3 separate regions of the Homo sapiens genome follow, and all the other regions are linked to region 2. Evidence: fine-mapped expression QTL. A gene starts in region 2. Each other region holds a variant in brackets. All regions are shown on one strand. Distances are from middle to middle. Region 1 overlaps MIATNB (MIAT neighbor). Region 2 holds the start of MIATNB (MIAT neighbor). Region 3 overlaps MIATNB (MIAT neighbor).

The links. PIP is the estimated chance that this variant, and not a neighbour inherited with it, causes the effect.
Region 1: its variant is fine-mapped to the expression of MIATNB in whole blood (INTERVAL, PIP 0.97).
Region 3: its variant is fine-mapped to the expression of MIATNB in whole blood (TOPMed, PIP above 0.99).

The regions. Positions count from the first base shown.
Region 1 is chr22:26,746,523-26,754,699 of GRCh38, reverse strand. The region is part of intron 2 of MIATNB (MIAT neighbor); the gene reads right to left. Among named protein-coding and RNA genes, the nearest start is that of MIATNB, 78 kb to the right of the region's middle. RefSeq lists enhancers at 692-1,689, 1,690-2,688, 2,689-3,686. The variant G/C (reference allele first, on the strand shown) is at 4,553.
Region 2 is chr22:26,668,270-26,676,446 of GRCh38, reverse strand. It overlaps MIATNB (MIAT neighbor), which reads right to left and starts at 3,604. Exons shown (of 6, transcript NR_110543.1): 1 at 3,460-3,604. MIAT (myocardial infarction associated transcript) reads right to left here. Exons shown (of 5, transcript NR_033320.3): 5 at 1-8,177. RefSeq lists enhancers at 7,288-7,870, 7,871-8,177.
Region 3 is chr22:26,691,202-26,699,378 of GRCh38, reverse strand. The region is part of intron 1 of MIATNB (MIAT neighbor); the gene reads right to left. Among named protein-coding and RNA genes, the nearest start is that of MIATNB, 22 kb to the right of the region's middle. The variant A/G (reference allele first, on the strand shown) is at 4,094.

The sequences.
Region 1 (8,177 bases), 78 kb before region 2:
TGCCCAAGATGATGTAGATGTATGTGGAGGAATCGCACCTGAACCACAGCAGCTGGATCCGGTGCCCACCCTGAAGTTACTCAAGGACTTCAGAGACAGACCTTGACATGAACACGGTTTCCAACCTTCTCCAGTGAATGACCTCAGCAAATCTCTTCTCTCTGAGTTCCAATTCCCTCCATTCCTAAAGTGGAGAGAATGAAATTTCCAACCACACAAGATGGTGGTAAAGAACAGAAACTGTTCATGGAAAATGCACACAGCAGGTGCTCAATAACTGATGGTCTTCCTGGAAAATGCACACAGCAGGTGCTCAATAACTGATGGTCTTCCTGGTGATCACCGAAGCCCTGAGAAAGCAGCTTCTTAGGGCCACCATTTGCAAAACAGCACTTTGTGGTTGCTAATTCCTCATAGAGAGAAAAATAGCTGGAGAGATTTCCATTAAGATTTTCTCCAGAAATCAGTGCCCCTGGCAAGCTGCAGGGCTGAGGAGTGCCTCTAAGGTACCTGGAGTTCCAGTCCACAGGTGGAGGCTGGGGGAAAGGGAGGGAGGAGTAAGGCAGGGATGTCTTCAGGGCCCCGGCTGAGTCCCCTCCCCACCTCCACGCAAAGGACAGAGGAAGTGGGATGAAATCGGGGGCACTTTGGGGGCTTGAGGCACAGTGGGGTGACATTCTGTCTGAATCAGTATTCCTTTTGCCCTGATCCTGCACCACGACCAGCCAATTTCTGTCAATTTACTCTTCCTACCTAAAATTTCACTGGTTTCTTACCTCATTCATTCTTTATTCATGCATTTATTCAATAAATTTCAGTTGGGTATCTGCTATGTGCCGGCACCATTCATTCTTGGCACTAAGGATCCAGTGATAAACAGACTTGGTTTTTGCCCTTCATGGGGCTCACAGACTAAGGTGGGGGCAGGCAGGGGGTATGGAACAGACACTAAAGATATAATAATTAGATCGGAGTGACAGGAAAGCCGAGGGGGCTGCGAGCACTCAGGAGATCAAGGAAGTCTTCCTGGAGGAGGTGACATTTAGGTGGAGATGAGGAGAATGAGTGGGGGGTGAGTCATCCAGGGGAGTGGGGCAGAACACTCCAGAGAGAAGGGGTTGGTAGGCAAAGGTCCCAGAGTGAGACTGAGGACCTGCAGGGGATGAAGTGAGCATGTGCCAGCACAGGGAGAGATGAGGCTGCTGAGGGAAGCAGGGCCAAGGTGGATCTTGAAGCCCTAGTGAGGATTTATGGCTTTTGCAAGGGTATTGGGGAGCCACCGAGGGTTTTATGCAAGTGGAGTGGCATCATCAGATTTCCAGCAGCATTAAATACAAACTCTTCTCCCATCTGCCCCCTCCTGGCTAGTATCGCTCCTCTCATGCCCTCTACTCCCCTTAACCAGGCTCCTCCTGAATCCCCAATGTTACGCTAACCTGGCTACATCTTCCGCCTGGACATGCGCATCTTGGGCTGCACCAGGGCACAACGAAACAAGCCCCAGGTTTGGATCAAACAGACCCAGCTTCAAACCTGGCCTCTTTGGCCTCTGGACCACCTGGATCAGGTCCCTAATGTCTCTGAGCCCCAGTTTGCTCATCTGTAAAATGGAGATCATCACTGTCCACCACTAACAGTGTCCTGAAAGGACCTGGCTCTGACACTTACTGTTTTCTTTCATCTGTTCCAGAAGCATGCCACCTCCTCCAGGCAGCCCCCCACCCTTCACTCCTCCAGCCCTCTGAACACCAGAAGCACTTCCTGTTTGCCCCTGCCCCCGGGTAACATGCATAGAACATAGCTGTTAAGAGGTGCATCCCTCCAGCAATCAGAAACCATTTGGGGTCAGAGCCCAACGGGTCTTTCCCAGCAGATCCTGGGAGTCTGTCTGCCCAGGGACAGGACAACTCCTTAAAGCAGGAGAGAGATGGACAGACAGACAGAAGGGCTCTGGGGAGCTAAGTGAGGTCCCAGGGAGTGTCGAGACTCCATGTGCTCATTTTCTGGGGTGGATCAGGATCTGGGAAATCACTCGGAAAGCTGCACCTCTTAGGCCAGACTGATAAACAGGCTGCCAACTTACAGTGGGGAGCACGATCTCCCGCTGTGACTGCATCCCCCAGATGGTGGCTGAAGGGCTCAGGCCTCAGCAAGTGATGGAATGGGGTGCCTCAGGCAGGAGAGGAACTGCACCCGGCCCCACCCCAGCAGAAGGGTCCCACATGTCCACCATTCCTGCTCTCAGGAAGCCAGGGTTCCCACCCCTACCCCCAACAGTCTCCCACTGACACCTCAGATGCCCACCTTCCTGCATCTCAGCAGTCCTGGGCAGCCAGGAAGAGACGCTGGCTTTTGGGCTTGCATGACACAGGGTTGGGGGGGTGGGTCAGGATAAGTCCTGGGGCTCTGGGGGGCCCTCGGACACAGAATGCAGAGGGCTGGGCAACATAGTGTCCCCCACACTGGTCACCTCTCCCAGGTCTCTTCCTCAAGCACACCTCAGACTCCCCACCCCTCTCTGAGCATCGGTCTCCTCTGCACAATGATGACCCATAATATTCTGAATTAATAATTCCAGTAATGTTGACACCCCCACCCCCACCACCAATGTCAAGAGTCTGGCAGGAACATCAGTAACCATAGCTACCAGCAGCACCCACTTAGCTTCTGGCAAGTTCCATAGAAATTCTACAATCTTTTTGGGTAAAGAGACTGACCAAGGTGAGGGAGTCACTTGACTAAGCCCAGGTTACCACTAAGAAAATACCAAATGAATAATGGCCCCCAGGGAGTTAACACTCACTAGGGGCCCACTACTATTCATTTACCTGAAATGCTCAGCTAATGCTCACAGTCACCTTGTGGATTATTATCCCTATTTTATACAAGAGGAAATTCAGATTCAGGGAGGGAAAGTAACTTGCACAAAGTCACATAGAAAGTTAGAAGAAGGGCTGGGACTCAGACCTAGTTCTCTGGATGTTAAGACTGCTGGCAGAATTTCTAGATGGGGTGAGAAGGAGAGGCAGGATGTCCCACCCAGACCAGCCTCCATCCTGCACCATAAAGACACTTCCTTCCCTCTGCCCAGAAGTGGAGTCATTTCTCTCTTCCCTTTTAAAGGTGGATTTCTCCTCCAGCTCCTCCCTGCTCCTTCCCCCTCCCCCAGCAGCCACCCCGCTTCCCTGAGCTGCCTTCCTCCCCCTCTCTCTCTCACTCTCCAACACAAAGAGTTGTCAAGGTAACCGCATTGCCAAGGACTCTCTCTTTGTCTGGGGCCCTGGGAGGAAATGCATAAGCCAAGTCGCTGCTCACTGACCCCAGATGACCCCCACAGGGAAGGACAGCCCTGGACCATCTTTTCAAGGACTGCTTGCCTCACCCCACCTATTTCAGCCGACTGCACCCTGATAGCAGCTCCAGGTGGCACATTCCAAGTCCCAACGTGCAAGAGGCTGAGGACCTGGAGGAAGTGTCTTGGGGCATAACTTCCTGGAGACACACTGCTAGAAACACTCAGGGAAAGGAAACAGCAAAGAAAGAGCACACTATGTGCTTGGTACTGGGATGGGCATTGCCGATGGTACAGAGAATAACATCCACTATTGTGCCTGACACTGCAAAGCACCTTGGGTGACACTGAGCATAGCACCTACTGAGTGCTTAGGCCTTTGCTAGACACTGACAGGGCACTGAGCACAGCCCCTACTTTGTGCTTCCCTCTGTGCTAAGATGACGGAGAGGTGCTGGCCATGAGATGAGTTTGAGAAGGAATCTCTGAATGGCAGGTGTTTGAGTCAAGCCTTGAAAATCCTGGTTGAATACACAATGAATAGGGTTGAAGACATTGGACAGGGGGAAAATCAATACTCTCGGAGCTAAGCAGTAACTATGGACCCAGCAGGTCAGGCATGTCCCTTGCTTTAAACAGCAAAGTCAGGATTTGACATCAGACTCATCTGATTCCACGTTCCCTTCCCCCCTGTGGTGGTAACTGATGATGTTCCAGGTGATAGAGTCTCCATCAGCCTGAGTCTGTGGATGAGAAGGATGTGGAGCAGAGCCTCCACCAGCTTGGTTGGTGAAGACTTGGTTTTTGCCCTTTGGTTTTTCCCGGAGGCGTACACCGTGCACACAGAGCACAAGCAGCAAATCAATCTTGGCTGCTCTGTGCCATTAAAACCTGAGCCAGGCTGGGCACGGTGGCTCATGCCTATAATCCCAGCACTTTGGGAGGCCAAGGTAGGTGGATCACCTGAGGTCAGGAGTTTGAGACCAACCTGGCCAACATGGTGAAACCCCATCTTTACTAGAATTAAAAAAAAAAAAAATTAGCCAGGCGTGGTGGTGCACACCTGTAGTCCCAGCTACTCGGTAGGCTGAGGCAGGAGAATTGCTTGAACCCGGAAGGTGGAGGTTGCAGTGAGCTGAGATTGTGCCACTGCACTCCAGCCTGGGCGGCAGAGCAAGACTCCATCTAAAAATAAAAAATAAGAAAATAAAAAATAAAAAATAAACCTGAGCCACTAGATTCCTTAAAGAACTAAAAGTA[G/C]AGCTACTATTTGATCCAGCAATCCTACTACTGGGTATCTAGCCAGAGGAAAAGAAAGTCATCATACAAAAAAGATATTTGCCCACACATGTTTATAGCAGCACAATTCGCAATTGCAAAAATATGGAACTAGCCCAAATGACCATCAATCAACGAGCGGATAAAGAAAAGGTGATATATAGATATATATACACCATGGAATACTACTCGGCCATAAACAGGAATAAAATCGAAGCATTCACAGCAACCTGGATGGCATTTGAGACCATTATTCTAAGTGAAGTAACTCAGGAATGGGAAACCAAACATTCCACACTTACAAGTGATAGGTTAGCTTTGAGGACACAAAGGGATAAAAATGACAGAATGAATTTTGCGGACTCACGGGAAAGGGTGGGAGGGGGTGAGGGATAAAAGACTACACATTGGGTATAATGTAGACTGCTGGGGTGAGGGGTGCACCAAAATCTCAGAAATCACCATTAAAAACTTATTCATGTAACCAAACACCATCTGCTCCCCAAAAACCAATTGAAATAAAAAATAAAATTAATAAATTAATAAAAAAAATTTTTAAAAACCTGAGTCACTGTAACTGAGAATTTAGGAGGTATTAGTTATATTGCAGCATATCACAGTCCACTCTGACTGTTACATCATCAGACTGAACCAAAATCCTGCGGCTGGCCCTCCTTGAGTCTCATCTCTGAATCAATCACTGTAGGCTGAGGGCAGCAGTACTCGATTGGCTCAGACCTGGTTCACTGGCCATGCCTACCTCCAGTGAGGGAGGAGAAGGAGTCACCTCTACCCATGTTGTTGGGCTTGGCATGGCCAAGGGTGGCTTTTCAAGGAAGATGGCATGCTGTTACCAGAAAGCGGGGCAGTTGCTGAAAAGGAGATACGAACACGTGTCCACTTTGAGGGCCTCATAGCCAAATGCTGTGCAAGAGGTTCCTACGCTGAATGGGAGACAAGTTCCCAGGCTGCTGCTGCTTCTCACAAGTCTCTGAAATTTGCCTGGAAAAAGATTCTATTGATTTTTTCTGGGTAACGTGGCTTCTTCCCTCAAAGAAGTCCTTTGGTTGCCGGGAGGCCTGCCAGGCAAGGGGTTGGCTTTCCCCAGGAAGGGTGGAGAAGACTAGGCTGGGGTAGGGAAATCAAGGGGAGAAGGAATGGCCAGCTGCCCCTAGCTGCCCAGGGAGAGGGAGGAGGCCAAGCTTGCTCAGAGCAGTAGTTGGAGACTAGCACGGACACCCCTGTGATCCTTTTTTCTAAAACCCAGATCTTTTGCCTTCACTTCTCTCCTTAAAAACCTTACATGGCTCCTTGCAAACTAAAATCAGCGTTGATTTCTATGCCAGGCACTGAACAACGTATTCCATTTACATTGTTATCCCCCCTAAAACTTCATAAGCAGCTATTAGAGTTTAGAGTTTTAACTCGTGAAAAATATGAGCAAATGAATGCTCAGAATCACAAGTGGCAGAACCAAGGTCACAGAACTCAAAACAGAGCTCCTAGTCTTCACCCACCCATTCAACTTGCCTTAAAAAAAAAAAAAGCTATAGGCCAGGCACAATGGCTCATGCCTGTAATCCCAGCACTTTGGGAGGCCGAGGTGGACAGATCACGAGGTCAGGAGTTCGAGACCAGACTGTCCTATATGGTGAAACCCCGTCTCTACCAAAAAATACAAAAATTAGGTGGGCGTGGTGGTGCTCCCCTATAGTCCCGGCTACTTGGGAGGCTGAGGCAGGAGAATCACTTGAACCTGAGAGGCAGAGGTTGCAGTGAGCCGAGATTGCGCCACTGCACTCCAGTCTGGCCAACAGAGTGAGATTCCATCTCAAAAAACAAAAAAGCTATAAAAATTGAAAAAACAATCTGATGAATACAAAGAGAAATAAAAGAGATAATTAACCTTTACTTGCCACACTCATTCCAGCTACTCTCCCAAGGAAGCACCATTAACTCTTTGTTGAACATCCATCCTGACCTCTCTCTATGGTCAAATAATATGTTTGAGCATTTATTGAGAGCCAAGAATGTGCCAGGGCATCGGAGGTTATTTTCACAGAGAGTGCTTCTCAGGGATGTACAAATTCCCATGCAATTCCATCTATTTTTTTAATGACCTTAACTAGTCAGAGCACATGGCTGAAGAAACTGACAAGTAAACATTTATTGCTAAAACCCAATAGATTAGGTCCCTTTGCAGCTCCAAATTTCCCAACAATCCACACTTCACCTAGAGGAAAGCCAAAGTCCCTGCATCCACCCAGAGGCCCTACAGAATCTGGTCCCTTGGTCACCTCTCCAACTTGGACCTCACCATCTGCCACCCTCTCCCTTCACTTCCTCCAGTAATATCTCACTTTTTTTCAAAAGGCCCCCAGCACGTCCTGCCTCAGAGCCTTTGCACCTGCTGATCCCTGTCCCTGAAACACCCTTCTCCCAGATACCCCCACGGCTCACATCCTCGCCTCCTTTGAAGTCTTTGCTCAAATGTCTCTTTTCCTTAACTAAACTGGACTCTCCCCATCCCCAACAAACACACGAAACCCATTTTACCTTCTTTGTTTCCTCATAGCATCTATTACTGTCCAACATAGTATACAAACCTTGTTTTATCATCTTCCACCACTCACTAGGATGTAGCTTCAGTGAAGTGAGGAATGTGTGTCTATTTTGTTCCCAGCTAAATCCCCAAGGCCTTAGAACAATGCCTGGCATACAGTGGGTGCTTCATAAATGTTTGTTGAATGACTCCATTAATTTAAAGAAGCCATAGTTCAGGCAGCAACATGGCTCAGACAAGATTGAATACTTTTTAGAGCATGTGAACCTCTTTCTTTTTGGAGCCGGCATCCAGCACTGTGAAACTTGAAAAGATCAGCATGCCAGAAGGAATGCAGGGGTTAGGGGAGCAGTCAAAGGGGACTTTCTCCCAAAGTCATTTTCTGCAGATCCCCTTTCCCAGTTCAGCCCAGGGTTGAGGAGTGACATCCCAAATCAGAGGGACCGCAAATCAGATATCCTCAACCCGTCCCTGAGCGATCTCCTTTCCCCTGGATCTACCAGAAACAGGGGTCCTAGAAAGTTGAAAGTCAAAAGCAGGGGTCTTTGGGACCCAGCTTTCGGGGGCAGCTCAGGCTCATCCTGAGGCTGGTGCTGTGGGCTCAGTTCTCCAGGTATGATTTATGCCTATGGCCGAACTTTATTTTCTACTTTTTTGGATTCTGCTCTGAATTTTTTTCTTCTTGGCCTTTTCCTGGGTCAATGCAGTCTTGTTATTTGATTTACTGTTAACAGTATTGACTGCATAGGATTGAGCCAAGAAATGGAAGAAATTGCTTTTTCTCTCTTTCTATCTCCTGTTTGACAACTCAGTCTTAGCACTGGATTTAGCCAAGCTCTGTGAGAGCCAAGGGAGGCAAAGGAAGTGGGAGTGTTGTGGCTTTGCGGCTGGAAGGTGACCCTGGGAGGAAAATGGCAAGGAATTGTCATTGAAAAGGTCCTGTGGCTGTTTTACCTTCTAAATAAGATAAAGATACAGAGAGGGTGTGTTTGAAGTATGGGCTTCAAAGTCAACTAGCCTTGGGTTTAAGCTGTGTGGCTTTGG
Region 2 (8,177 bases):
TGGCATTTTACACAGAAGCAGCTACATTCATGGATGAAAACAAAAATCCAAGTGACGCTCCTTTGTTGAATCCATGTAAAAATCTGATTTTTAATCTACAGAGAAATTTCTACCCACACATTCGGTATCCCCTGGGGGTAATGACATGGAAAACAAACATCTTTTCTGGTCTGTTAAAGTAAAACAATGGGTCCCTGGATAGACTCTCAAGAGGGCCTTTGATGGAATGGAACCAGTCCCCCCACCCCGAAAGCATCCCCCCAGCTCAACATGTCACCATTTACACCAGCACAGCCCTCACATTGGGTCCACAGCACAACCTATTAAGAAAGGATTATAACACCTGTTCGGATTGGGAGGCCAATTCCTCAGCTCTAAGATCCTGCTCATAGCAAGCTTGATGTTCAGTAGACTCCAAAGCAGACTGAATGAGGGAGGGGTCGAAGAGAATGTGCCTGCTTGGGCTCAGCCTCCTCTAATATTGTCAAGATGCACACACACTCTTAGAATCTCACAACCATCGCCAATCTCTATGTTGGCCTAGTCCCAATCCTTCTGCCTCTGGGAACAAAAGGTTCATTACCCACCAAGGCATATTTTTCCCTCTCTGGGACCAGGATCAGCTCTTGCAAGCTTACTCCACACTTGTATCTGCCCCTTGCAGCCATGCATGACAAATGGGCTCCCTCCCCAATGGAATTATCTTATAGACTTGCAGCCTATGACTGTGTTTCCCCTGATCTTCTCCAGGGACTTCCCACCACCATGGGATGACATGTTTTCAAGATTGCTCCCCTTCCGAGCCTTTATTTTCACCTTGGTCCTCTTTACTTTCCAGTCATTGCAGAGATACTTCCAACTGGGGTAGACATGTATGGATTCTGTTTATCAAAAGATGGACCAAAGGGTCTTCCTAGTTTCAAAAAGTTCTGCTCAGTTGTCTAAAATGTGGCCAGAGGCCATTGCAAACTCCTCTGAGTTCCACCTGGGCTGGAAAAGCCAAATGGCCAGCCTAAAACTCAAATCCACTAACTCCCTTTCTCAGATCATATCCGTCGCTCCCCAAGGCCTAAGGATAAAATCTAAACTTCTTGGCAACCAGACCCGGCACCATGTCCATGTCTCCTATCTCTTGCTACATTCCACATGAACCTTCCAGAACCTCTTTGGATCCTCTCTGATCCCCAGAAACTGGTGTCCACCACTCTCGCTGCCCGGAACTCATCCCCACCCACACTCCACCCAGCCACAGCTCAGCTTAGATGCCTCCCTCTCCAGAAAGCCACCACAGGGTGGATTAGGTGTCTCTCTGTCCCCATTCCACCCCCCTGCACCCAACACACTAGAATTAAAGCTCCTGAAGACCAAATGGTGTTTAACTACCACTACATCCCCAATGCCTGGCACACGCCTGGCACAGAGTAGGTGCACATCAATCTTGTCTGTCTCCTTGGTGCTCCCACAGACCCCTGACCAATCATAACACCCATCTCACTGAATCACTATCTACTTCACCAACTCTCCCACTAGGCTATAAAAGCACCATGACGAAAAAGCCCAGGTGCAGGTCCCAGCGCCCAGAGCAGTGCCTGGCACATAGTAGATCCTTAGCAGCATCAAGTCTTTGCAGTTAAACAAAGAGGAGTTTCAGGAATAGGAGGTGTGAGCTTCCTGCTTTGAGTGAAATGGAGCAAGGCAGCCACTAGAGGATGGCAGGCAGGCACTTCCGGGTGTAGACTACCCCATCCAAGGTCCCTGCCAGCAGCCAAGGCATGTTCTCAAAGCTCTTTCTAAGACATCTTTTCTCTCTTGTGCCCTCTGCAGCTCAGGCCTCTGGATCACCCTTCACCCCCACTGCCAACTACAATTGGTTAGCTCTGAGTCCACAGTTGCCAGAGAAAAGGGCTCTCAGCACCAGACTAGCATTCAACGACCCAAGCAACCTGCCTCTAAGGTCTGTAAGCCAGCCTTTGACCTGTCCCTAAACTGATCCAATCCTCCAGGCCCTGCCTTGAACTGTCTTCTCCTGCAGACTCTGACTACCAGACTGAGTCAGCAAAACCTTGAACTAGTGCCACCTTTTACCTGCACCTGGAATCCCTTGCGTATGCTCCCTGCCCCTCTACTCCCAAAGGACGTTCCCTCAGTCTAAAGAGATCAAAAGTCCCTTCCAGAAAAACTCCCGTTTCCTCGGTGCAGCTAAATTGCACAGAAGAGTTTATGCTAGAAGAGCTAAAAGTTAGAACAGGAAGCTCAGATAATTTATACTACTAACATGTAAATGACTGACGGAGTTATAACCCTTCTGAATACTCTGATCTAAAGCTTTATGTCCTAGAACTTCCAAAACACAAAGTCCCCAAAATGAAGACTCTAGGCCCTGGCCTGGGGAAGGGTGACTCTATACAAAATGGCATATGCTCTGTAGACACCAGACAGGTATTTTAAGGTTTATAAGAGCTGCATCTACTTGTGCAAACTACTGTAGCTATAAGGCTATATTTTTTTAAGAACTGAAACCAAATGCAGACTATGAGGAGTGAAGATATGCCCAATGGCCAAAACCTTGCAAGACTGGCTATACTTCTGACCCCACCTTGGTGGGTACCACTGCTCCATCAGGCCTGGTCCACACCAGAGCCCTGGCACCTCCTTTAGAAAACTACCATCTTTACCGACTTCTGATTGTTCTGACTCAGAGCAGCCACCACGCCCAAAATTGTTAGCTATGCTTTTCCCTGTGTTAGTCAAGTTCAAACCTGTGTTAGCCAAGTTCAAACCTGTGTTAGCCAAGTTCAAAGCTGTGTTAGCCCCTTCCCAGCCATGCCGACATCCAAGCTGTTAACAGTAACGAGGAATGTTAGACCTGTTGTTAGTCAGAAAAAAATCCACAAACCATTAGTTTCTGCTGAAAGGAACAGACCAGGAAGGCAGGAGTTAGTCAAGGTGAAGGAAAGGTTAATTAAGAACCGGTCAGGGCCAGGCCAGGAGCCTGGAACCCCCAGACAGGGCCAGGTTGGTTGTTAGTGGTCAGCCCCTGGGGCAGTCAGGGTGAGGCAGGGATTAGCTGGGTGAGAGCAAGAGTTAGCGCAAGGGAGCCAGAGATTAGCCCAAAGAAACCAAGGTGCCTACTGGAGGTGAGGCATGAAATCACCCCCAGGTGTGGCCCCGGCTTAGCGGCTGGCGGGCTCTGGGGGAGGCTGGCTGAGGCAGTGACGTCCGTGGGAACAGAGAGCCAGAGATGCATTCCTGGCCGGCCTGAGCATCTGCGGGAACCCTGTGAGCCCCTGAGGTTCACTTCTTGCTCCCCACTTCTCTCTCCTGCAAACTCCGAGCCCGGGGTAAAGCTGCTTCCCCTCCCCACACCCCTTTTCAACCCGACAACTAACGCCCTCTAGCTTCCGGGAATGGGACGGATCTTTCCCAAGGACTTCCGGTCACGGCCCCACGTCTACTTACGGTGGGGGAAACCGGCCTCTCTCGGCTCCAGAGAGGGGAGACGGCTCTCTAGCTGACTTCCTGTGTGGGAAAGAGTCCTCTCACTGACTTCCGGTGTCAGAAATGTCCCTCTTTCCGGCCTTCAAATATGAGAAATGTTTCTCTGGCCGACTTCCTGTGTACTAAATACTCCACTCAGTGGTTTTTAGCGTAGGAAAGACCCGCTTCATTGACTTCCGGTGTAAGAAAGGCTCCGCTTTCTGACTTCCGGTGTGGGACACGCCCCTCTGCTAATTTCCGGTGAGGGGCACGCCCCCTCCTGCCTTCCTCGTGGGATACGCCCCCCTCGTGACTTCCTGTGCAGGACAGCTTCTATCCCCGTCACTTAACAATGGAGAGGATTCTTCCCCAGCTTCCTTCCAGAGGACACAAAAGCTCAGAGCTCCACAGTCTAGAGTCTAGACCAACAGGCCTCCACACTCACGTCCCAGAGATTTCCCTGGTCCCACCTACTCCCAGTGGCAACCAGACTTCTGCACATAGGAGAGATGTCATACTCAGAGTCCAGCCTCCCACATCCACAGGACCACCTCTTCCTCCTCTGAGTCTTGTTAATAGGGCCATCCCCTGCCTTAGACCTGGCCCAGTGGACTCTGATCTTACAGCCAATATGGGGCAGCAAAGTGGGACATCTGTCTACAGGGCCAGTAGCCCCAGGTCATCTGCTTGCCAAAAGGAGGGGGACCAGCCCCCGGGGGGAGCCCAGAGCTCGGCAGGGCTGGGGTTAGTAAGAAGAGAAAACAGGGTTAGTAGGGGCTGGGTTAGTAAGTCAGAGCACAGCACCAGCGGACAGGGCACCTCAGCAGACACACACAGGAGTCGCTAAGAGAAAAGGAAGAACGCACGCAGGTCCGTTAGTTTGTTAAGGGATGATCGGGGTGCAGTTGAGGCACCCCAGGGGTTAGACGGGTTAGTAATCGAACAAAAGAGCTGCCTACAGAAAAGAAAGCTGAGACGGAGGAAGAATGTGGGGAAGTGACATGGATTCAAAGCCAAGTGTCTTGCCCCAGGCAGAAGGATCTGTGTGCAGAACACCCAGAGAGGCCAGGGCCTAGGCAGCAGACGTGTTCAACCAGGTTTGAGGGGCCTTCCTCCATCCTCATACTTTTTTTTTTTTTAGGTGTCTGCCATGTGCTGAGACCCTTATATTGACGGGAATCCTCACTGCAACCTGTAAGGTATCAGAACTCGCATTCTACCACTGAGGAAACTGAGGTTGAGAGAAGTGAGGTGACTTACTCAAACTCACTCAACAGGAAGTGGCAGAGTTGGTGAGTCTTATTTGCATTCTCTGTCCTGGAACGTGGGTCTGCACAAAGATCCCAGCCCATAGGCAGAGCCTTCTGGAGCCTTGGCTGCCCCCATATCCCAGCCCCTTGAAAGGCCCATGAGCTGCACAGTTAGTAGGATCTGGCTGCGGGGGGGTGGTTAGTAGGGCATGCTCGGGCCTGGTTAGTGGGTTAGTTGGTTGGCAGAAGGCCAGGCACCTCGTCACACGCCACAGCGTCCCGGCTGAGCCCTGGGTTAGTAGGTTAATCACACCATGCAACACTGCCCCGGCCCCTCCAGCTGCAGCTTCAGAGGCCTCCCGCCCCCACCAGCCAGGGAGTGGGGCCTGACCAGGGCAGGGGGTCTAACTCTAAGCCCCCCAGCCCCATCAAAATCAACCCTAACCACATGGACCCTGCCCAAAAGCATGTTGCTTCCCTATTTATTGGCTGTGGGTCTCAGAGCACCCCCTGCAAATATTTCAGCTCCCCTGAAAATGGACCCTACTTGTCCTAGACAGAAACCCCCTGCCTGGTTCTGGTCAGCCCCTTCCCAGAGGGCTGGATCCTGTTACACTCTGACAGACACACGCACACCCGCATCTCTCCGCAAAAGATCTGACAACCGTGCTTAGTAGACATCTCTTCCATCACCGACTGTCAGGCCTCTAGTTTCTCCAACTATTGGCCTGCCCTCCCACCATTAGAAAAAAAAAAAACGCATCAAGCTGGCCTGGCTCCTGGAACCAAGTTGAGACTCCCCCACGCCCACCCGGTCTGCTTCCTTTTCAGCCAATGCTACAAAGCACCTAAGTGTACCCTAATTATGCCATCTTCTATCACTGCTGTACTTTTCCCATAGAAACCCCAGCCTAGCATCTCCCACAGTTCTAAACGATGTTCCATGAGAAAAAGATTCTACGGCCATAAAAGTCAAGGAACACTTCATCCTATGCCCTGTCCCTGAGTATTTGAAATTGCCATTAGCATTTTAAAGGTTCTGATAAGTCCTGCACTACTTCAGTAGTGCAGCGGAATTTGAATTAGAACCTGCTTTTTTTTTTTTTTTTTTTTTTTTAAGGAGCAATGACATTTCCTAGAAGTTACTTTAAGAATTTCCCTAGAGGGTCGGGTATCATCTCAGCCAGATCTTTCTCATCCTTCAAGGCCCTGTTTGGTACAGCTTGCTAGGAAGCTGTTCCAGACTGCAGCAGCCCTCTCTGGGGTCTCTCTACCACTTCCCAGGCACTCAGAACTTGTGCCTCAGTAGACTGTTTTGTGGCACTGTCCCATTCTCTGATTCTCCATGTGAGCTGGTTTTATCCCATCCAGCATGGCTGTGAAATCCTAAAGGTTCAAACCCCAGCCACTCTTCACCTATATTTCCCCCAAATGGCTAGCACGGGAAAGGGCCCAAAGTAGGTGCTCAGTGCTGATGAGAGAGTAGAATTTAAATACCCCAGGAAGCATTGTGAGTTACTACGGAGGCCATGAAATGCTGCCACCTCCCCAAGCTGATTAAAGAGTGATACTAGGAAAATAGGTAGGGAAGGGCTAATCAGAAATGCCTCTGGTTCAGAAGATGCTGAGTTTTAAAGTCCAGAGAGCCAAAAAAAAAAAAAAATAGATAAACCCTAAGTCTATACTCCCAGATGGATGGGAGCATTTGCTGAGCACCTACTGGGAGTCAGGCACTGTGCTAGGCACACAATCTCACTGAATTCTCCCTGCACCTGACAGGCAAGCACATTCCTTCCATTTCACAGAGCATCGGAGGCTCAGAGGTGAAGTAACTTGCCCAGGGTTGTAGCCCAGGCCCTTCTCAGGACACGGCTCTCCCAGGGCCTCCGCCTCCCTGCACTGAGCCCTGCCAGTTCCATATGTCCTCCGAAGCACTCCTGAGCCACCCCAGCATGGTACCTGCCACTCTCCGTGTCTGCTTCCCATACCTCTCTGCTCCTCCTCCCCATCCCTGGGTGGGGGCGGGAATTCTGAAGGGGAGAAGGCTCTGACTTTCCATGTTTGCGGTGACCACCCTGTTAAGAACTGAATGGTGTCCCCTCCCCCAAATGCATATGTTGAAGCAGTAGCCTGCTATGTGACTGTTTTTGGAGATGGGACCTTTAAGGGGTTAAGGTTAAATGAGGTCATAGGTTTAAGCCCTAATATGGTGATATTAGTGTCTTTATAAGAAGAGGAGGAGACACCAGAGCCTGCTCATGCTCTCTGTCCCTCTCCACAGAGAAAAGGCCATGTGAGGACATAGTGAGAAGGTGCCACCTGCAAGCCAAGGAGAGAGGCCTCACCAGAAACCAAGTCTTAACACCTTGATCTGGACTTTCCAGCCTCCAGAACTGGCAGAAAATAAATTCCTGATGTTTAAGCCATCCAGTCTGGCATGGTGCTGTGGCAGCCCAAGCTGATGAATAGTACACACCACTCCGCATTCTGGGAAAAAGGACATCTGGCTTTTAAACTTGCCTAAGGGAGGCCACAAGCTGCTCTCTTGCAAACGCTGGGACTGTCTCCTCTGGAGGGAGCTGGAATTGCAGATTGTGGGGCCTGTCCTGCCACCTTCTGTTCCCCAAGAACAGAATCCAGGAGCAGTGCAACTAGAAGCAGCGATCTGATTGGAGAAGAGTGTCCTGAGACTGGGCTAAGGTGACCCCTTAAGCCTTTGGGTAAGACTGGTTCCCTTTGGATGGCAGGAAAAAAAACCCAGGGCCACCTGTCTCTTTCTAGTGAATTTCCCTAGCCTAAATCTTATCTCTTAAAGACCCTCTCTTTTCAGGATGGTGCACTCTCAGCCCCTCTGGCTGCCCCTCCCAGAGTTCAACAGCACAGGGGGAAGGCTCCAGCTCCTCCCAGATCCTGACTGTCTCCTCTTTGTAACCATCAGGGAGAGGAAAAGCATGGAAAAGCCCCACCAAGGAAGTCCCCCACAAAATGACAATTACGCACTGAGCAAATGGAGACAAAGGACTCCAGCCAGCGGCACCCGAGGAGCTGCATCTGCCCTCTGCCTGACAGCCCCTCCCCGACTCCCATCCTTGTTCCTGTCCCCATCCTGTAGGGTCCTTTGAGACCCAGCCTTGGGGAAAGTGTGGTCAGTGGGGACTTGGCCCAGGCCAGGCTCTGTCTGGTCACCGGCAGAAACGCGAGGAGGAATCAAGTTCACATGGGGCAGGAAAGGGCCCCCAGACCCAGACAATAGGGCCCAGCAGGCAGGGCCCGAGCAGGTGAGGAGGGAGTAGTGGGCTGCCAGGCCTCCCTCATACCCCTGGAGCTGTCCTCCAGAGCCAGATCAGTCATCTGCTGAGCATCAACCAGGAAGAGTTCCTATCCATGGGAGGCTCCATCCCAACAGGTGTGAAGAGGATGAGATCTTCAGGGAGTCACCCAGCGGGCTAG
Region 3 (8,177 bases), 23 kb before region 2:
CCTTTTGCACCCATAAAGCAGGGAGACAGGACCCAAGCAGCGCACTGTGCATCCTGCAGCTAAATCTGTCCACCTTCCTCCCTTCTGCAAGACACAGGTGCCCAGAGTCAGAAATTACATCTGGGCTGTTCAGATTTGTGGCCACTCTCCCCAGTCATTCAGAGCATGGGGAAATTCAGCCTCATGCCACCATTTTTCAAGCACCACTGGTAGAGGAGGAGACATCAGCTCTGCACCCACCTTGGTCTGAGCACCAATCTCCGTGGAAGATGTTGGGAGAAACAGCATTTCTTCAAGGGCATTTGCAAAGGGCTTCAGTTAACAGAGGGCCTACAAAACCATTAGCCGTGAAATCCCTTCAGCACCTCCTAATGAAGATCCCCTGTGAACAGACCAAGAAAAGGGCTCCAAGAAGGAAAAGATGCACCCAAGGTAACAGCTGGAAGATAAAGGAGCCCGCATTCCAACACAGATCTGTCTGTCCCAGTGCACATGCAGTTGAGGCCACACAGAAGCAGAGGTTGGATCCACCACATTTCAGAGAAACCATTCATGTATTCAACAAAAATGGAACCAGGTGTTTTGTGCCTGCTACATGCCAGGCCCTGACCTAGACTCCGATAGCACAGAGATTTGTTTGCCATTCAACACAGGTTTATTTAACACCTACTCTCCTCCAGGAACTGGGCGAGGCACTGGGGCTACAATGGAGGACAAACAGGCATGATCCCTGCTCTCAGAGTCCCTGCTTTCAGAGTCCCTGCTCTCAGATTCTTTTGTAAATAAGGTGAAACAATTATTTATCCTAAAATGAAGGTAACATAGTATCTTCTGAGGGGAGGTCCACAGAGCTGATAACGTGAATTTGAATTAATCTGGGGAATCCAGGAAGGCTTCCCTAAAGAAGTGAAGCTTGCACTAAAATCTAAAGAAGAAGTAAAGAAGATGAGGAGGGAAAGAAAAGGCATCCAAGTAATGAGAACAGCATGTGCAAAGGCCCTGTGGTAGGACGCACCAAGGACCCAAAGGCAACCCTTTTGGCTGGACTAGAGAGATCAACGGGTAGTGCCATGCAAAGTGACAGTGAAAAAGGAGACAATTGCCAGGTGCGGTGGCTCATGCCTGTAATCCCAGCACTTTGGGAGGTCGAGGCGGGTGGATCAACTGAGGTCAGGAATTCGAGACCAGCCTGGCCAACATGGTGAAACCCCAACTCTACTAAAAATACAAAAAAATTAGTCGGGCATGGTGGGCGGCTGTAATCCTAGCTACTCAGGAGGCCAAGGCAGGAGAACTGTTTGAACCCAGAAGATAGCGGTTGCAGTGAGCTGAGTTCATGCCATTGCACTCCAGCCTGGGCAACAAGAACAAAACTCCATCTAAGAAAAAAGAAAAAGGAGAGAGACAATGAAAACCCATCCAGGTAAGGATCTGGTCTTCACCCTAAGGCAATGGGAAATCCTCAAAGAATTCTAAGAAAAACTGAAATGATCAGCTTCACCCTCTGGCAATCAAATAAGAGTAAGAGATGTATAAAGAAGTAATCACAACCAAAAAGATACACCTGAGACAGAATAAGTTCAGGTAGCTGCGCAGTCACCTAATGCAATTAGAGGGATATGAGCTTCTTAGAGGAGGAGATATTCTAAATAAAATATTTTTTAAGCCCATCACAAAATCCTGAATCTGAAAGGTTCAAACGGGCTCCTTCCAACACAGGTGCAAGCCCATTTCAGAGATGAGGTCCAGGGACCCCAGTCTCATGGTGGCGGACCACAGACCAGAAGCCACAGGGCTCTCTCTGACTCCTTGCACAGTGCTTACAAGTTTTCCTGGCTGGATTAAGTTCCTAATTTGTCCCTAAGCCTCAGCAACAAGCCAGAGGCTAAACAGGCCTGATGCAGGCAGAACCCTGGGCTCATCCTAGAGTCCCCAGAGTCTCTAACCCACCAGGGGTGGAAGGTGAGACAGGTCTAGGGAGCTGGAAGCCTGTGCTCTTCCCCAGAGAATCTCCTTCTCCCAGCTGGAGAGCCCCCCACAAAGCCATCTAAGCAGCCCCGGGGGAGGCATTTAGGTAAGAGGACTCCAGGGAGCCTTCAGAGTAATTTTCAAGGAGGGCTGAGGCCAGTGAGAAAGGGGATTATTAGCTCTGCTCTCTGGAGGGAAGTTGATGCAGACAAGTCGGTGAGTGGGTTACTCAAGAGAAGGGGCATTTATAGTCCCTTTCCTTCTAAGCAGAGGACATTCATGATGCCTGGGGATTCAGACAGAGCCCTACTGAGGAAACAACCACAGCGGTGATAATAGCTCAATAAAAATAAATCGATATGAAGAACTCTTACAACTCAACAACTAAAAGACAAACAACCCCATTTTTTTAATGGGCGGAGGACCCGAAGAGACATTTCTCCAAAGAAGATATGCAAACGGCCAACAAGCGCATGAAAAGATGCTCAATGTCATTCATCAGAAAAATGCAAATCAAAACCACAGTAAAATCTCACTTTGCACCCTTATGAATAGCTATAATTAAAAAAAAAACGATAATAGCAAGTATTGGCAAGGATGTGGAAAAACTGGAACTTTTATACACTGCTGGTAGAAATATAAAATGGTGCAGCCACTTTAAAAGATGGTTGACAGTTTCTCAATGACTTAAACCTACCAGCAATTCAACACATGTGTGTGTAGGTATATACCCAAAAGAACTAAAAACAAGTGTTCAAACAGATACTAGTATACCAATGTTCGTGGCAGCATTATTCACAGTGGCCAAAAGTTGGAAACTCCAATATCCATCAACAGATGAGTGGATAAGTAAAATGTGATATATACATTCAATGAAATATTATTTAGCCATAAAAATGAATGAAATAGGCCGGGCGCGGTGGCTCACGCCTGTAATCCCAGCGCTTTGGGAGGCTGAGGCAGGCGGATCACGAGCTCAGGAGATCGAGACCATCCTGGCTAACACGGTGAAACCCCAACTCTACTAAAAATATAAAAAATTAGCCGGGCGTGGTGGCAGGCGCCTGTAGTCCCAGTTACACAGGAGGCTGAGGCAGGAGAATGGCGTGAATCCAGGAGGCGGAGGTTGCAGTGAGCCGAGATCGCACCACTGCACTCCAGCCTGGGCGACAGAGCGAGACTCTGTCTCAAAAAAAAAAAAGAATGAAATACTGATACATGCGACAACATGGATGAACCTTGAAAACATGCTAAGTGAAAGAAGCCAAGCATGTATTGTACAATTCCATTTATATGAAATACCCAGAATAGTCAAACTGATAGAGACAGAAAGCTGATTAGTGGTTGCCTAGGTTTTGCGGGAAGGAGGCAAGGGGGAGTGACTGCTAATAGTTGTGGGATTTCCTTTCAGGGTAATGAAAATGTTCTGGAACCAGATAGTGATGATGCTTATACAACCTTGTGAATGGACTAAAGGCCACTGAATTGTCCACTTTAGAAAGGTTAAAATGGCAAATTTTAGGTTATGTGTCTTTCACCACAACTCTTAAAATCTAGGAACATAAATAAATAGATGGACTGGGAAACCACCCAGTAGCTCCTCAGCACGCCCAAGAATAAAATCCAAAAGACAAGCTCTTACCTACAAGGCCCTACATGAGTTATCCTCCCCTCTCTCATTCAGCTCCTTGCTGATCTTTGAACACATCAAGCAGGATCCCACCTCAGGGCCTTTGCTCCTGCTGTCTCCCTCTACCTGGCAGGTCAGGTCTCCACTCTGCTCACTCCATCTACCTCACATAGGCCATGGCAGATAGACTCAAAGGGGCTCCCAATGCCCCCCACCTCTCAGTATTTACCCATTTGTATAACCTCCACCCTTACATATGGGCAGGACCAAGAGCTTGCTTCTAATCAATAGAATACAATAAAGAGGACCCAGCATGGTGACTCATGCCTGTAATCCCAGCACTTTGGGAGGCTGAGGCAGGCAGATCACTTGAGGTCAGCAGTTGGAGACCAGCCTAGCCAGCATGGTGAAACCCTGTGTCTACTAAAAATACAAAAAAATTAGCCCAGTGTGGTCGTGCATGCCTGCAATCCCAGTTACTCAGGAGGCTGAGGC[A/G]GGAGAATCACTTGAACCCGGGAGGTGGAGGTTGCAGTGAGCCGTGATTGCACCACTGCAGTCCAGCCTGAGTGGCACAGCAAGATTATTCCATCTCAAAAAAAAAAAAAAAAACCCACAGAGGAAAGAATACAATAAAGGGGACAGGAGGCTGCTCTCATGACTACATCATATAAGACTGTAATTAATGCCCATCTTGCTAGGAGACTCTCCTTGCTGGCTTTGATGAAGCAAGCAGCCACACTGGGGTGGGCCATGTGCAGTAGCCTCTGGCCAACAAACAGCCAGGCAGTGAGGGCTGCTTCCATCTTATAGCCAGCAAGAAACTGAGGCCCTCAGTCTTACAGCCCACAAGGAACTGAATTCTGCCAACAACCCCATGAGTTTGGAAGTGGATCCTTCCCCGGTTGAGTTTCAAGTGAGGCTACAGCCCCAACCAATACTTTGACTATAGGTTTTAGAGGAGATTCTGAAGCAGAGGACACAGCCTAGGTTCTTGGCCCTCAGACACAGTAAGATAATAAATATATGCTGCTTTCAGTTTGTGGCCATTTGTTATGTAGCGTTGGTGCATGGGTCCCTGTTCAAATGTCACCTCCTTAGAGAAGTCTTTTCTGAATTCGCTTTCTAAAACAGAATTTGTCTGACACAGAAAGATAAATACTGTATGACCTCACCTATATTTGGAATCTAAAAGAGTCAAAGCATAGAGACATAGACTAAAATACTGGTTGCCAGAGGTTGGAGGGACAGGGAAATGAGATGTTGGTCAAAGGGTACAAAGTTTCAATTAAGCAAGATGGATGAGTTCTGGAGATCTAATGTATGGCATAATGATTACAGTTAATAATATATATTTGAAATTTGCTAAGAGGGTAGGTTTCACCACAAAAAAAGACAATTATGTGAGGCGATGAACGTGTCAAATAGCTTGACTATAAGGATCATTTCACAACATATATGTATATTACAGCATCAAGTTGTACCCCTTAAACATTACCCAATTATATTTGGGTATTGGTCAATCTATTTGTCAATTATGTCCAAATAAAATAAAATCTGATCCACCGTTACTTTCCACAGTTACCCTGACTTTTTTCTCCATATCCCTTGCTGCAATCTGACTCATTATATGTTTATTTACAAATACATAATCTTGAGAGCAAGGATCTAGTCTGTCCTGGTCATCTCTGCATCTCCAGTGCCTCTCATGGAACTTGGCACATAGCAGACATTCAATAAATAAGGAATGACCGAACAATCAGCCATCTTTATATAGGCTTCACTATGGGCACTCGCCTTAGTTGTCCTCACCATGACCCAGCAAGCTGGTATAATTATTCCCATTTTATGAATGTAAAAAGTGAGGCTCAGTGGTAAAGAATGACACACCCAAGCTCATATAGCTGGTAAATGGCAGAACCAACAATTAAATCCAGGTAGCCTCACCCAAAGGTCCATGTTCTTCACTGCCATGCAGGCAACCTCAGATGATCAGCAGCACCTTTGTTCCCATTTTCTTCCTTCTATGAAAGGGGTACTTTTATCCATCCTGGGTCAGTGGCAGGAGGGACTCTCCCCATCCCTTTCTCCCAGCCCTGCTATCTGTGGACAGGAACAGGTAAAGATCTTCAGAAGCCTTAAGCTTAGAAAAGATGAGGGAGCCCCCTCTGCAATCTCCTATGTAAACTGAAATTAAAACAATGCAAAACCATAAAACCCAAAATATGTGTGCATGTTGATGTTAAAGGAACTGTTTTCTAGATTTCCTGATTCTGGTTGTTGAAGTGCAACCTTTTTCATCCCTTTCATGACCTGACTTTCCTGAGCTCCAAGCCCATCCTTAGCTGACCTCCTGGAGGAGCTAGGTCTGCATATGGGATTTTGAGTAAAGAAGGGAACGAGGGAAAGACAGAATACCCCCGGCAAAGAGAACAGCATGGATGTGCACAGGCCCTGGGGTAGAAGTAAGTACAGCAGAGACAAGGAACTGGAAGAAGAGTCTTAGACATTTGCGAAGTGTAGACACACTATAGGCTAGAAACTGCACTTTTACTTAGGAATTCCACCTAATCTTCACCAGACCTCCATAAGGTAACTACAACTATCAATGCACTTCTACAGTTGAGCAAACTAACACACAGAAAGGCAACACACCTTGCTGTTTTGGTCATCTTAGGCTACACTATGTGATGCTAACAGGTGCCTTCAAAGGTCTCGGTGGCTTAGATAGCAATCATTCATTCCTCTGCAATCTGACAAACCCTTGTAGCTCTGTTTTTGCTCTGCCCCTCCTCACTTCATTCCAGGATGAAGGCAAAGGGAGCAACTCCCTTATGGAAACCTGATGGTCTCAAGGCCAAGGTAAAAAGGGAAGGTGAAGCACAACACTTAGGAAATAGTAAAAATTACCATAGTGTCACAAAGAGGGAAGGGAAAAGGTGACCACACAAGGGTTCTTACAGTGTCTGCCAAAAAGTGGCACATACCACCTCCACTCACTTTCATCCCATTGGCTGAAAGTCACCTGGCCAACCTGACACCAGTTGGGTAGGGATATGAAATCTCCTGTAGAGATGACCACATAGGGAAGGGTCCCCATAAGGTCATGTATTTCAGAAATGGCCAGACAAGAATTCAAACCAAGGTGGATTTTTTCCACACATACATACATCCCCTGCTCCATTCCATCCCCTGGGCTATGCACTTTAGAGAACTCTGTGTCCTCAATAACAGTAAAACTCTGTCCTTCCAAATCATGCCCTGGAAGGAGGAAGCTCCAGCAAAGGAGAGGCAGCTGGGTTAAAAAGATATGAGCATACCTTCCCAAGATGCACCATCCCCTTGGGATCTTATGCATCCTTCAAAACCCAGCTTAAAAGGATGCTGCCTTTCCAGGCTCCCCCAGTTGAGCAGACCTCTCCCTCCCACATGCCCACCGATGAGCACTATACTTTCCTCTCTTAAAGCTCCTGTTCCCCTCCACTGCACGATAATCTGTATACAGGTCCGTTTCTTTCATCAGACTGTAAATAACATGAGGACATAAGAATGGCATCTTGGCCAGGCATAGTGGCTCACACCTATAATCTCAGCACTTTGGGAGGCCGAGGCGAGCAAACTACCTGAGGTCAGGAGTTCAAGACCAGCCTGGCCAACAGGATGAAACCCCGTCTCTATTAAAAATATAAAAATTAGCCAGGTATGGTGGTGGACACCTGTAATCCCAGCTACTCGGGAGGCTGAGGCAGGAGAATTGCTTGAACTTGGGAGGCAGAGATTGCAGTGAGCCAAGATCATGCCACTCCACTCCAGCCAGCCTGGGCAACAGAGGGAGAATCTGGAATCTGTCAACAAAAAAAAAAGATGGAAAGATGAAAGAAAGAAAGAAAGAAAGAAAAAGAAAGAAAGAAAGAAAGAAAGAAAGAAAGAAAGAAAGAAAGAAAGAAAGAAAGAAAAGAAAAGAAAAGAAAAGAAAAGAAAAGAAAAGAAAAGAAAAGAAAAGAATGGAATCTCATTCCGCTCTGAACACAGTGCATAGCTTAAGACATGCAGTAAAAGTCTGATGAATGAATAGATTGGTCAGTGGATATATATGGGTCGATGGAGGTGGAGAGGTTGGAAGTCAAGTTTTGGAATTGAATTAGAATCCCAGCTTTGCCACTTGCTAGCTGTGTGACTCTGGTTTATTTACTTAACCTCTCTGGACCTTTACGAAGTAGAAATATAAGTGTGTCTCTCACTGGATTGTTAGATTGTCAGGAAACGGAAGGGTGCACGGTATGATCTGACTTTAAAGAGATTTGAATTTGAATCTGAACTCTAACACTAGAAGGTGTGTGACTCTAAGAAGTTGCTTGTGCGGCGTATCATCTATTTACCCCTCTTGATCCACTGTCCATCCTCCTCCAACCTACCCAGTCCCTAAGAAGTTGGTCTCTACTGGCTGCATAAATAGGCTGTGCCCCTTCCTCCAGCCTCTTGTTAAGATCAGCCAACGGAGAGCAACAACAGAAGATGAAAGAGAGGAAGGAAACTGAGGTCAACCTATTTATTCCTCTAGCTCCCTCCTTGCCAAGTCACC